Homo sapiens: one gene and its partner. The protein of the gene in region 1 purifies or fractionates together with the protein of each later gene. This does not show direct contact. Each region holds a gene or a part of one and is shown in the gene's direction. Other genes may lie near its edges.

What was found. Proteins that work in one complex are often made in the same cells at the same time.
Region 2: the proteins of TMEM62 (region 1) and NPLOC4 purify together in Homo sapiens (affinity purification with mass spectrometry; 2 studies listed by BioGRID and IntAct, with this or other methods). This does not show direct contact.

What each region holds. Positions count from the first base shown.
Region 1 is NC_000015.10:43,136,574-43,143,599, forward strand, and holds part of TMEM62 (transmembrane protein 62), read left to right. Parts: intron 1-2,000; coding exon 2,001-2,046; intron 2,047-7,026.
Region 2 is NC_000017.11:81,627,113-81,634,138, reverse strand, and holds part of NPLOC4 (nuclear protein localization protein 4 homolog), read left to right. Parts: intron 1-4,333; coding exon 4,334-4,414; intron 4,415-7,026. UniProt on the Homo sapiens protein: The ternary complex containing UFD1, VCP and NPLOC4 binds ubiquitinated proteins and is necessary for the export of misfolded proteins from the ER to the cytoplasm, where they are degraded by the proteasome.

The sequences.
Region 1 (7,026 bases):
AGCTGGGATTACAGACAGGTACCACCCTGCCCAGTTAATTTTTTTTTTTTTTTGGTATTTTTAGAAGAGGTGGGGTTTCACCACATTGGCCAGGCTGATCTCGAACTCCTGACCTCAAATGATCTGCCCCTGCTCAGCCTTCTAAAGTGGTGGGATTACAGGCGTGAGCCACCACGCCTGGCTTATTATTATTTTTTTGACAGGGTCTTGCTCTGTCACTCAGCCTGGAGTGCAGTGGTGTGAGTATAGCTCATTGCAGCCTTGACCTGAGCTTAAATGATCCTCCCACCTCAGCCCCACAAGTAGCTGGGACTACAAGCATGCATCACCATACCCTGCTAATTTTTGAAGTTTTTTTTTGTGGAGTTGGGTTCTTGCTATGTTGCTTAGGCTGATCTCAAACTCCTGGGCTCAAGTGATCCTCCTACCTCATTCTCCCAAAGTGCTGGGATTACAGGTGTGAGTCACTGCACCTAGCTTAAAAAGTTTAAATTGCAAACAAATCTCCATAGGCATGAACAGGGAAATGGATAATCCTTTCCCTTTTTAAGATTATCATTGTGTTGGTAAGGAAATGAACTCTTCTCCAAAAGAGTCCTGATGGTAGTGTATTTGTTTGATTTATAAAGGTTGACTTTTTTATTAGCTAAGTACTTCATTTGTCTACTTTATCTGATCAGTAGATCAGGCATGAATCCACTTCTTGCTGGCTTTTAGAATCACATGATTAAGACAAGAGCAACTACAGTTCAATCTTATAATTTCAAAGTTATTTATTCTGAGTGGTATAGAATTCAAAGTACCTGTTTTTCTCTAGTATACTAAGTGCCTTAAATAAGTTTCTAGATAATCTGAATTTTGTTAAGATATCAAAATTTTAAAGTATCAATCTAATTGATTGGCATTCTGCCATTAAAAGTGTTATAGAAAGATGACAGAGGCTGCTACAGTCACGCCATGCCTAGCTAAGTCTGTGCCAGCAGAGGCAGAGAGCTTGCGGTGGGCCAGTTGCCCCTGCTGGAGCCTCAGTTAAATCTGAACATCCCACTGTCCCAACCCTCCCACAGATGTGCACCGGGCTGTACTTTGGCTTAAGACTGCAGGTGGACATCTCCACTGCCCGGGAATCATGGAGTGTGTAGACAGGACAGCCTCCATGGAAGGCTGGTCATACCAGAGTCCCACCTTGGCACAGGCCTTGCCATTGAGGCAGCTCTACTGTCTGTGCTGGTCTGAGGGTGGGCTGCCTGTCATGGGGGCAGCCATTTCCCAGGGGGTGTTCATTGCCGTCATCTGCAACGCCTCATAGGCTTCTTGCTGCTTCTGCTCCGAGTCATTCTCTGCCGGGCCTACACTCTTGCTATGCCAATATTGACTGTCTCTACAGATTTAGTCCCAACTCCAGCCCTGGCCCCTATCCTGAAAAGGTACCACTGCCCAAGAAACCTAGCCATGAAGGCAGCTACCTGCTGCAGCCCTGAAGGCCCCTGGCTTAGCCTGGAGCTTGGGACCTAAGTCCATCCCACCCACATCCTGGAATCAAGATTCCAGGGTTTTAGCCAGACTAGGGTCTAGAACTTGGAGCCTAACCTGCTTGGATTGGACTCAGCAACCCTGAGTCTAGCCATACTGGTTCTAGGAGAGGCTCAGTGGCCCTAGAGAGATGGGCCATGGTGGGAGTTCATGAATTGCTGGTAGGGCCAGGGCCATCTGGACTCTGTTCTGAGTCAGGGGCTGAGTCTACCCTTTCCTTAGGCTAAGCACTTCTAGGTGGGGGAAGCAAACTGAAACCCATGGCAATAATGGGAGGTTGTCCAGGATGTGCCCCTCTCCTAGTCCTCCCACTGTTTGCTGAATAATAAATGGAACGGCTCTACCCTGGGGGTGTGTGTGGAAGAATTGTTATAGAAAGAATTATTTTCCCTTAGTCATTAAAGAAAATGTTTGTATTCTTTTTTTAATGTGGATGAATGTTTGCTTTTTTTTTTTTTTTAAATTAGATGCATTCAATATTCCAAGTCTGGACAGCATCAAGAATTATTACAGGTACTGTAATAAACAGAAGACAGACCACTATGTAGAGTCAGTGTTATAAGGAGGGTGTGGTCAACTCAATGAATGAGAGAAAACTTTAAAAAAACATTTTAAGAGGCAGGGGTCTCGCTATTTTGCCCAGGCTAGCTCTGAACTGAGCTCAAACGATCCTCCTGCCTCAGACTCCTGTGTAGCTGGGGCTGCAGGCACATGCTACTGTGCCTAGCTGAAAACATTTTTTAACAGGTAAAATTTTTCTATAAAGAATCTCTAGTAATTTAAAAAATGAGCCTTTTTGTCTTTTTGTGACAGATGCATTTCTTTTTGTTTAGAGTTTTTCTTTCCTTTAATTCTTTCTGTTTCATATACAGGCATACCTCGTTTTATTATGCTTCGCCTTATTGCACTTTGCAGATGTTGCATTTTTTCAAATTGAGAGTTTGTGGCAAGCCTGCCTTGAGCAAGTCTATGGGAGCCATTTTTCCAACAGCATGTGCTCACTTCCTGTCTCTGTGTCTCATTTTGGTAATTCTCACAATATTTCAAACTTTTTCATTATATCTTTTATGGTGATCTGTGATCAGTGACCTTTGATGTTACTATTGTAATTGTTTTGGGGTGCTACAAACCTTGCCCATATAAGTCCAGGAACTTAATCAATAAGTGCTGTATGTGTTCTGAGTGCTGCACCAATCAGCTGTTCTCCCATCTCTCTCCCTCTCCTCCAGCCTCCCCATTCCCTGAGACACAACAATATTAAAATTAGGCCAGTTAATAACCCTACAATGGCCTCTAAGTGTTCAAGTGAAAGGAAGGGCCCAACATCTCTCACTTTAAATCAAAAGGTAGAAATGATGAAGCTTGGTGAGGAAGGCTGTTGAAAGGCTTTCAGATAGGCTGAAAGCTAGGCCTCTTGAGCTGGAGCAGTGAGCCAAGTTGTGAAGGCAAAGGAAAAGTTCTTGAAGGAAATTAAAAGTGCTCCTCCAGTGAACAGATGAATGATTAGAAAGTGAAACAGTCCTACTGCTGATGTGGAGAACGTTTTCGTGTTCTGGATAGACAATCAAACCACCTACAACATTCACTTAAGCCAAAGCCTAATCCAGAGCAAGATCCTAACTCCCTTCAATTCTATGAAGGCTGAGAGAGGTAAGGAAGCAGCAGAAGAAAAGTTGGAAGCTGGCAGAGTTTGGTTCATGAGGTTTAAGGAAAGAAGTTAACTCCATAACATAAATATGCAGTGTGACGCAGCAAGTGCTGATTGATGGAGAAGCTGCAGCAAGTGACCCAGAAGATCTAGCTAAGATAATTGATGAAGGTGGCTGCGCTAAACAACAGATTTTCCATGTAAATGAAACAGCCTTCTTTTGGAAGAAGATGCCATCTAGGACTTTTATAGCTAGAGAAAAGTCAATCCCTGGCTTCAAAGGATGGGCTGACTATTGCTAGAGGTCCATGCAGCTGATTTTTTTTTGTTGTTGTTGAGAAAGTTGCACAATAATTTATTTAGGGCCTCCTCTCCCCACCCTTGCAGTCTCTAGGTCACTTTTTCCGCTTGTAGATTTTGCGCGCCAACCCCAGAAAGATGACTGGGGGCAGGGGAGCTGCGTACTGTTCAATGAGACCCATAACGTGGCTGTAACTGTCTTCCTATTATTGCAAGAACATGGCCGGCAGATCCAGCTCCTCATATACTGCCTTCACCGGGGCCACCTTCTCGGCCTCCTTCTGCCCAAAATTCTCCTTCAGAATCTGGTACTGTTCTGGAGTGGCCCGTTGCAGACACTGAACCACCAGCCAGCTGCATTTGTTGTCCTGGATGTCAGTGCCAACTTTGGCGGTCACATTGGGGTCCCCAAAGAGGTGAGGGTAATCATCCTGATCTGAAAGAACTCTCCCTCTCCCATCTCCAGCAGGATCTTCTTGGCATTGGTATTCTCCTTCTCTCTATCAATACCTGCATATACATGGCTGCAGCTACAGGAAGGTAGAAGGAGTAGAAACTGCCTTGTACGTGACACTAGATTTGTACCTCTTTTCAGTGAATCTGCCAAGATCCACATTGCCCTGGGGGGCTATGATGAGATCCAGGGTCTGCCCAATCTCAGTCTGATAGAAACTCTGCCGGAAGAGCTGGATCAGGTTCAGGTAATAGGGCTGCTCATGGCAATAGAGCTTCAGCAGGCGGTACATACATGCTTCCCTTCCAGAAGCATAGCAACATTGATGGCATCCAAACCCGCGCCCGGCTTCTGATATCAGCAGATCTGTCCCCAGTGGGTGAGGGATGAATCCATGATGTCATTTGCCACCAGGAAGAAAGCTTGCAGCAGTTCCACACACGAGCCCATAGTCAGGGCCCGCTGGAGACTCTCAGTATCCTGTTTCCTCGGCTCCACCAGCTCCCAGAATGCTACTAGCACCATCAAAGCCCAGTGATACTTGCCTCCAATGGCATTGTACTACAGGACCTCCGTGAGCTGGGTGATAGCATCTCCTGTCTCTGGGTGCCCCATCTCATCCTCAGTCAGCACCCTAACAATCTGGGAGAAGCACTGAATGAAATCCTGCTTTTCTTGGACAGAAATGTCTGATTTCTGGTCTCCATTCATTCTGAGGGAGGAGCAAAGGGCTCTGTTCCTGGATGTGGGTTCCTGCTCCATAGCTGATGACTTTAAGTGGAGCCAATGCCCACTTACCATTCTGAAAATCCTTGGGTGCTTAAGCGTTATGCTAAATCTACTCTGCCTGTGTTCTATATATGGAACAACAAAGCCTGGATAATAATAGCACATCTCTTTACAGCATGGTTTACTGAATATTTTAAGTCCACTATTGAGAACTACTGCTCAGAAAAAAATATTCCCTTCAAAATATCAATGGTCATTGACAATGCACCTGGTCACGCAAGAGCTCTGAGGAAGATGTACAAGGAGATGAATGTTATTTTCATGCCTGCTAGCGCAGTATTCATTCTATAGCCAATGGATCAAGGAGTAATTTCAACTTTCAACTCTTACTATTTAAGAAACACATTTCATAAGACTATAGCTGCCTTAGATTATGATTCCTCTGATGGATGTGGGCAGTCAATTGAAAAATTTATGGAAAGGATTCACCATTCTAGATGCCATTAAGAACAGTTGCAATTAATGGGAGGAGGTTAAAATAACAACATGAACAGGAGGGAAGAAGTTGATTCCAACCCTCATGGATGACTTTGAGGGGTTCAAGACTTCAGTGGAGGAAGAACTGTAAATGTGGAAATAGCAAGAGAACTAGAATTAGAAGTGGAGCCTGAAGAGGTGACTAAATTGCTGCAATCTTATGATAAAACTTGAACAGATGACAAGTTGCTTCTTATGGATGAGCAGAAAAAGTGGTTTCTTGAGAAGGAATCTACTCCTTCTAAATATGGTGTGAACATTTTTGAAATGACAACAAAGGATTTAGAATTATACATAAACTTAGTTGATAAAGCAATAACAGTGTTGGAGAGGATTGGATTTCTTTGGGTAAAATGCTATCAAGCAGCATTGCATGCTATAGAGAAATTCTTTTTTTTTTTTTTTTTTTGAGATGGAGGCTTGCTCTGTCACCCAGGCTGGGGTGCAGTGGTGCGATCTTGGCTCACTGCAACCTCCGCCTCCCGGGTTCAAGCAATTCTCCTGCCTCAGCCTCCTAAGTAGCTGGGACTACAGGCGCCTGCCACCATGACCCGCTAATTTTTATATTTTAGTAGAGACAGGGTTTCACCATATTGGCCAGGCTGGTCTTGAACTCCTGACCTCGTGATCTGCCCACCTCGGCCTCCCAAAGTGCTGGGATTACAGGGGTGAGCCACCGCGCCCGGCCAAGAAATTCTTGTGAAAGGAAAAGTCAATTGATGTAGCAAACTTCATGGTTACCTTATTTTAAGAAATTACCACAGCCACCCCAACCACCACCCTGATCAGTCAGCAGCCACCAACGTCAAAACAAGACCCTCCACCAGTAAAAAGATTTTGACTCGCTGAAGGCTCAGATGATCATTAGCATTTTTAGCAGTAAGGTTTTTTTTTGTTTTTTTGGTTTTTTTTTTGAGACAGGGTCTCTCTGTCACCCAGGCTGGAGTGCAATGGCGCGATCTCAGCTCACTGCAATCTCCACCTTCCAGGCTCAAAGTGATCCTCCCACCTCAGCCTCTCGGGTAGCTGGGACCACAGGCGTGAGCCACCATGCCTGGCTAATTACTGTGTTTTTTATAGAGACAGGGTTTCTAAATGTTGCCCAGGCTAGTCTTGAACTCCTGGGCTCAAGTGATCCACTCACCTCGGCCTCCCAAAGTGCTAGGGTAACAGGCGTGAGCCACCATGCCCAGTCAGTAGAAGTATTTATAAATTAAGGTATGTGCATTGTTTTTCTAGACATGATGCAATTGCACACTAAATAGACTATAGTATGGTGTAAACATAACTTTTTTTTTTTCTTTTGAGACAGGATCTTGCTCTGTTGCCCAGGCTGGAGTGCAGTGGCACCATCTTGGCTCACTGCAACCTCCACCTCCCTGGTTCAAGCGAGTCTCCTGGCTCAGCCTCCTGAGTAGCTGGGACTACAGGCATGTGCCACCATGCCTGGATAATTTTTGTATTTTTAGTAGAGACAGAGTTTTGCCATGTTGGCCAGGCTGGTCTCAAACTCCTGACCTCAAGTGATCTGCCTGCCTTGGCCTCCAAAAGTGCTGAGATTACAGGCATAAGCCACTACGCCCAGCCGTAAACATAACTTTCATACACACTGGGAAACCAAAAAATTCATGTGACTCGCTTTTTTGCAATATTTGCTTTATTGTGGTGTCAGGAACCACAATATCTCTGAAATATGCATGCAGTTTAATGCTTTGTTTTGGCTAATGGTACTTTTAATATTCCACACGGGCTTAAAAAATTGTTTAAGTCATTGATACATAGGAAAAGTCATTTATATCAGAGCTTGTCAGCCACACTACTGAGG
Region 2 (7,026 bases), on another chromosome or scaffold:
GCACTTTGGAAGGCCGAGGCAGGTGGATTGCCTGAGCTCAGGAGTTTGAGACCAGCCTGGGCAACACGGTGAAACCCCACGTCTACTAAAAAAAAAAAATACAAAAAATTAACCGGGCGTGGTGGCGTGCACCTGTAGTCCCAGCCACTCAGGAGGCTGAGGCAGAAAAGTTAGAACCCGGGAGGCGGAGATTGCAGTGAGCCGAGATCGCACCACTGCACTCCAGCCTGGGTGACAGAGTGAGACTCTTAAAAAAAAAAAAAAAATTAGCTGGGCGCGGTGGCGGGCGCCTATAATCCCAGCTACTTGGGAGGCTTGAGGCAAGAGAATTGCTTGAACTCGGCAGGCAAAGGTTGCAGTGAACCGAGGTCGCGCCATCGCACTCCCACTCTGGGTGACAGAGCAAGACTCTGTCTTGGGGGGAGAAAAGAGTTTCTGTGGATTTAACTGTATCTCACCAGTTCTTCAACTTCCCCAAGAAGCGTTCTAGTCTTATTTTCTTATAAATAGGGAAACTTAAGTTACCAAGAGGCTGTGTGTTCATGTTGTCAGGTCTGTCTCTTCCTGTGTATTTCATTTTGTAGTCTGTGTCAGAGGCTAGGCCAGAACTTTCCATCGTACAAATTATGTTTGTCTCTTGTTAAATACTGGAGTTGGCCTTGGAAACCTGGACTCCCATCTTCTGTGGTAGAGGATCAAGTAGGATGACTTCTTCACCTTAGAATTCTGCAGCCTGAACCATTTAGCTCTGTAAAGAATGGCGGTAACATGCTCTTGTTCCAGAGTCATCGTTTGAAGGAACATTCACATGTTCCCCTTCATTAGAACAGAGCTTTCCTTTTTAAGATAGCTAAGTGTTGGCAGACAGATTTTAGAAACAAATAAGTGGAAGTATTTACCTAATGCTATATATTGTGAAAACGTTTTTCTGGGGTATTGAATCTAGAATGAAGTATACTAGACGTTAGAAGTATAAAGAATTGTATTTCTTTTCTTTTTTTTTTTTTTTTTGAGACGGAGTCTTGCTCTGTCACCCAGGCTGGAGTGCAGTGGCGCGATCTGCTCACCACAAGCTCTGCCTCCTGGGTTCACGCCATTCTCCTACCTCAGCCTCCCAAGTAGCTGGGACTACAGGCGCCCTCCACCACGCCTGGCTAATGTTTTGTATTTTTAGTAGAGATGGGGTTTCACCGTGTTAGCCAGGATGGTCTCAATCTCCTGACTTAAAAGTTGAGAACATATTGGGTGGAGCCTTTTCTGCCAAGTGAAAGTTATGGGAAAATGCAGGACAGGGTTATCCTATTTTAGGAAAATCTAGATTAGGCTTAGTTACTTTACTAAAAGCGGACAAATCCCAGTAGACTGAGCCTTTATGGTGTTTTGTCCTGTATCAGTGGAAATCTTTTTTAGACAATGGCTTGTGACAGTTTTCATCTGCATAATGGTTGAAGAGGATGTTTAATGTAACACTCGTGGTAACCTCACAGAAAATAGTTATAGAATTTATGAAAAAGGAAATAAGGGAGGCCGGGTGTGGTGGTGCACACCTGTAATCCCAGCACTTTGGGAGGCCCAGGTGGGTGGATAACTTGAGGTCAGGAGTTCGAGACCAGCCTGGCCAACGTGGTGAAATCCCATCTCTACTAAAAATACTAAAAATTAGCCAGGCGTGGTGGCAGGCACTTGTAATCCCAGATACTCAGGAGGCTGAGACAGGAGAATCACTTGAACCGGGGAGGCAGAGGTTGCAGTGAGCCGAGATCACGCCATTGCACTCCAGCCTGGGCAACAAGAGCTGAAAAAAAAAAAAGAAATAAAAAAGGAAATAAGGGAATTGAAATGTTTCACTATAAAAAATCAGCTAGGCCAGGGTTGGTGGCTCATGCCTATAATCCCAGCACTTTAGGAGGCTGAGGCAGGTGGATCACCTGAGGTAGGCGTTTAAGACCAGATTGACTAACATGTTGAAACCCCGTCTCTACTAAAAATACAAAAATTAGCTGGGCTTGGTGGTGCACGCCTGTAATCCCAGCTGCTCAGGAGGCTGAGACAGGAGAATCGCCTGAACCTGGGAGGCGGAGGTTGCAGTGAGTGGAGGTTGCAGTGAGCCGAGATTGCGCCACTGCACTCCACCCTGGGCAACGGAAAAAGACTGTCTCAAAAAAAAGAAAATTAGCTGGGTATGGTGGTGGGCGCCTGTGATTCCAGCTACTCAGGAGGCTGAGGCAGGAGAATCACTTGAACTCAAGAGGCAGAGGTTGCAGTGAGCCAAGATTGCGCCATTGTACTCCAGCCTGGGCCACAAGATTGAAACTTCATCTCGGGGAAAAAAAAAATGAGCTAAATACAAGAGATGGTAATGCAGGAAATGAGAGAGAAAGAAGCTATAGAATGCACCATCAGTCTTTGCTGAGAGGAGAAGCTAGGACACTTATGCGCATGTTCCTGTCTGCCTTCCTTCCCGTCCCGCGGATGGTTGGAGCAGGTCTTTGTTTGCTGCAGAGCATGCCATGTCATCCTCCTTGTCTAAAGCAGGGGCCTGTGCTGTTGGCCAGGCATGATAACTCACCTTCACGATGGCTTTCATCAGCATAAACATCAAGTTGTCTTAGAAAGTAATGCCCTTTGTCCAGTAGTCTTCCAGATCTGCCAACCTTTTTAGGCTTGCCGTGGGGGAAAAAAAAAAAAAAAAAAAAAAAAAATATATATATATATATGTACACTTTAATATGCATATATGCACACACACGTTATTAAATTAGGATGGGGTCTCGCTGTGTTGGCCAGGCTGATCTCGAATTCCTAGGCTAAAGAGATCTTCCTGCCTTGGTCTCCTGAAGTGCACAGATTATAGGTGTGAGCCACTGTGCCCAGCTGAAAATATTTTTTCAAAACCCTACTAAATTTTACCATTAAAGACCTTTATTGCTTTTAATTTTAATTTCTTTTTTAAGTTTAAATTTTTACTTTTTTTTTGAGACGAAGTCTTGCTCTTCGTCACGCAATGGCACGATCTTGGCTCACTGCAACCTCTGCCTCCTGGGTTCAAGCGATTCTCCTGCCTCAGCCTCCCGGGTAGCTGGGATTACAGGTGCCCGCCACCACGCCCAGCTAATTTTTGTATTTTTAGTAGAGACGGGGTTTCACCATGTTGGCCAGGCTGGTCTCGAACTCCTGACCTCAGGTGATCTGCCCGCATTGGCCTCCCAAAGTGCTGGGATTACAGGCAGGAGCCACTGTGCCCAGCCTAATCTCTTTTTTTGAGACAGGGTCTCACTTTGTCACCAATGCTGGAGTGCAGTGGCACCATCTTGGCTCACTGTAGCCTCGACCTCCCTGGTTTAAGTGATCCTCGTGCCTCAGCTCCCCAAGTAGCTGAGACCATAGGCGTACGCCACCATGCCTGGCTAACTTGTATTTTTAGTAGAGATGGGGTTTCCCCATGTTGCCCACTGGTCTTGAACTTCTGAGCTCAAGTGATCCACCGCCTTGGCCTCCCAAAGTGCTACAATTACAGACGTGAGCCACTGTGTCTGGCCATTTTTAAACGTTTTTTAGGGAAAGTAAGTAATAGCTGGCGTTGTGGCTCACACCTGTAATCCCAGCACAGTGGCAGGATCACTTGAGCCCCGGAGCTCGAGATCAGCCTGGGAAATATGACACTCCGTCACTACAAAAAAAAAAATTAACCTGGTGTGGTGGTGCAAGCCTGTGGTTCCAGCTCTCGGGAGGCTGAGGTCAGAGGATCACTTGAACCTTGGATGTCAAGGCTGCAGTAAGCTGTGATTTTGCCACTGCACTCCAGCCTGGGTGACAGCAAGACCCTGTCTCAAAAAAGCAAAAAAAAAGTAACAATTAGAAAATTTCCTGTGATTCTTTTAAATTGTAGGACTCTTGAAGACTGTCTAATGTTTGTATATAGATCCTGGAACAAAGTAACATCTTTTTTTTTTTTTTTTCCCCAAAGTAACATCTTTTTTAAAGAACACAGTTCATTCATGGTTCATGGTGGGTTTTTCTCTGTTTTAAGTCTGAAGAGACAAAAAGTGTTTTACATATACTCTATAAATAGTGATTAGGAATTAAAGTTGTTTTCTGAGTGAAACTAAGAGTTGAGAGGACAGTACTCTTAAAATATCTCCCCATATGTTGATGAATCTCACCCCTCGGCATCATATTCTAGAAGGATTGAGCTGGGTATTGAAAGGTGAAGAGTGAGGTTTGGCTTTAATTTTCAGTGACCCAGATGCTAAAAGACCACAGATGGAAGCCGTAGTATTAGATCAGGACCTCACTAGGCTGTGCAGTAACCATCATGTTTTGTTTGCAACAGATAATTCGTGTCCAGTCCCCGGATGGAGTGAAGCGGATCACAGCAACAAAGAGAGAAACAGCAGCAACATTTTTGAAAAAGGTATCTGTGGCCTGGGTATTGACCCTCAGGATATTTTTCATCCTCTACTCTTACTGCCATCGATACCTTTTCTCTTTTCCTCGTTTTCTTATTTTCCCTATTCCCAAATTGCCTCTTGCATTGCCTTTCTCTATCACAGTTGGGTTGGATTGCTATAGGATGAGATGTTTGTCACAGCTGATCACTGCTCAAAATTATAGGACCAAGAGCCCAAAGGTAAGTGTAAAAATATTTCACGGCTGGGCGTGGTGGCTCACACCTGTAATCCCAGCACTTCGGGAGACCAAGGCGGGTGGATCACGAAGTGAGGAGTTCAAGACCAGCCTGGCCAAGATGGTGAAACCCCGTCTACTAAAAATACAAAAATTAGTCGGGCGTGGTGGTAGGTGCCTGTAATCCCAGCTACTTGGGAAGCTGAGGCAAGAGAATTGCTTGACTCAGAAGGCAGAGTTTACAGTGAGTCGAGGTGGTGCCACTGCACTCCAACCTGGGCAACAGAGTGAGACTCCATCTCAAAAAAAAAAAAAAAAAAGTATTTCATAAGAGTGGCCAGGCGCAGTGGCTGACGCCTGTAATCGCAGCACTTTGGGAGGCCGAGGCGGGCGGATCACAAGGTCAGGAGATTGAGACCATCCTGGCTAACATGGTGAAACCCTATCTCTAGTAAAAATACAAAAAATTAGCCGGGTGTGGTGGCGGGCACCTGTAGTCCCAGCTGCTGGTGAGGCTGAGGCAGGAGAATGATGTGAACCCAGGAGGCGGAGCTTGCAGTGAGCTGAGATCGCGCCACTGCACTCCAGCCTGGGCGACAGAGTGAGACTGTCTCAAAAAAAAAAAAAAGTATGAATTGTAGATATGACTACAGTTGACTCAAAGAATCATCCCTGGCTCCTCCCTGGTCTCCTGACCTGCATTGTGTCCAGGATTCCCATGACAGTTTTTCTTTTTTTAACCAATCACAAAATATTTCATTTACTGTGATAGTTGCATATTATGTACTTCTTAGCTTATCTTCACAGTTTCTTCCTTATTTACTTTTCCCATGGATTCCCCCAGACTATTTCTGTCTGGTGTTGTTTCTCTTCAGACTGAAAAACATCCATTAGCCTTTGTTGTAGGTAGGTTTGTTGGTCACAGACCTTTGGGTTTTTTTGACCTGAAAATGTTTTCGTTTTGCCCTGTGTTTATATGAGGGTTATTTTCTTTTTTTTTGAGATGGCATCTCACTCTGTTGCCCAGGCTGGAGTGCAGTGGCATGATCTCGGCTCACTGCAACCTCTGCCTCCTGGGTTCAAGCAATCCTCTGCCTAAGCCTCTCGAGTAGCTAGGATTACAGGCACCCGCCACCATACCTGACTAATTTTTTGTATTTTTAGTAGAGACGGGGTTTCACTATCTTCACCATGCTGGTCTTGAACTCCCGACCTCGTGATCCACCCGCTTCAGTGTGAGCCACCGTGCCCAGCCATGAAGGATATATTTTCTTTTTCTTTTTTTTTTCTTTTTTTTTTTATGAGAGGGAGTCTCGCTCTGTCTCCAAGGCTGGAATGCAGTGGCATGATCTTGGCTCACTGCAAGCTCCGCCTCCCGGGTTCACGCCACTCTCCTGCCTCAGCCTCCCGAGTAGCTGGACTACAGGCGCCCACCACCATGCCTGGCTAATTTTTTGTATTTTTAGTAGAGACGGGATTTCACCATGTTAGCCAGGATGGTCTTCATCTCCTGACCTCGTGATCTGCCCGCCTTGGCCTCCCAAGGATATTTTCATTCAATACAAATTTCTTTTTTTGAGATGGAGTCTTTTTCTGTCGCCCAGGCTGGAATGTGGTGGCGTGATCTCGGCTCAGTGCAACCTCCGCCTCCTGGGTTCCAGCAGTTCTCCTGCCTCAGCCTCCCAAGTAGCTGGGATTACAGGTGTGCACCACAATACCTGGCTAATTTTTGTTTTTGTTTTTTGAGACAGAGTTTCGCTCTTGTTGCCCAGGCTGGAGTGTGATGGCATGATCTTGGCTCATTGCAGCCTCTGCCTCCTGTGTTCAAGCAATTCTCCTGCCTCAGCCTCCCGGGTTCAAGCAATTCTGCCTCAGCCTTCCGAGTAGCTGGGATTACAGGCATACGCCACCAAGTCCGGCTAAGTTTGTCTTTTTAATAGAGATGGAGTTTCACCATGTTGGTCAGGCTGGTCTCGAACTCCTGACCTCAGGTGATCCACCCGCCTTGGCCTCCCAAAGTGCTGGGGTTACAGGCGTGAGCCACTGCACCTGGCCTCAAAACAGATTTCTGAGTTGACAGTTCATTTTTGTTCCCCACCATGCATCAATTTTTTTTTTTTTTTGAGACGGAGTCTTTCTGTTGCCCAGGCTGGAATGCAGTGGCGCGATCTCGGCTCACTGCAAGCTCTGCCTCCCAGGTTCATGCCATTTCCCTGCCTCAGCCTCCCGAGTAGCTGGGACTACAGGCACCCGCCACCATGCCCGGCTAATGTTTTTTGTGTTTTTAGTAGAGATGGGGTTTCACTGTGTTAGTGAGGATGGTCTCGATCTCCTGACCTCATGATCCGCCTGCCTCGGCCTCCCAATGTGCCGGGATTACAAGAGTGAGCCACCACACCT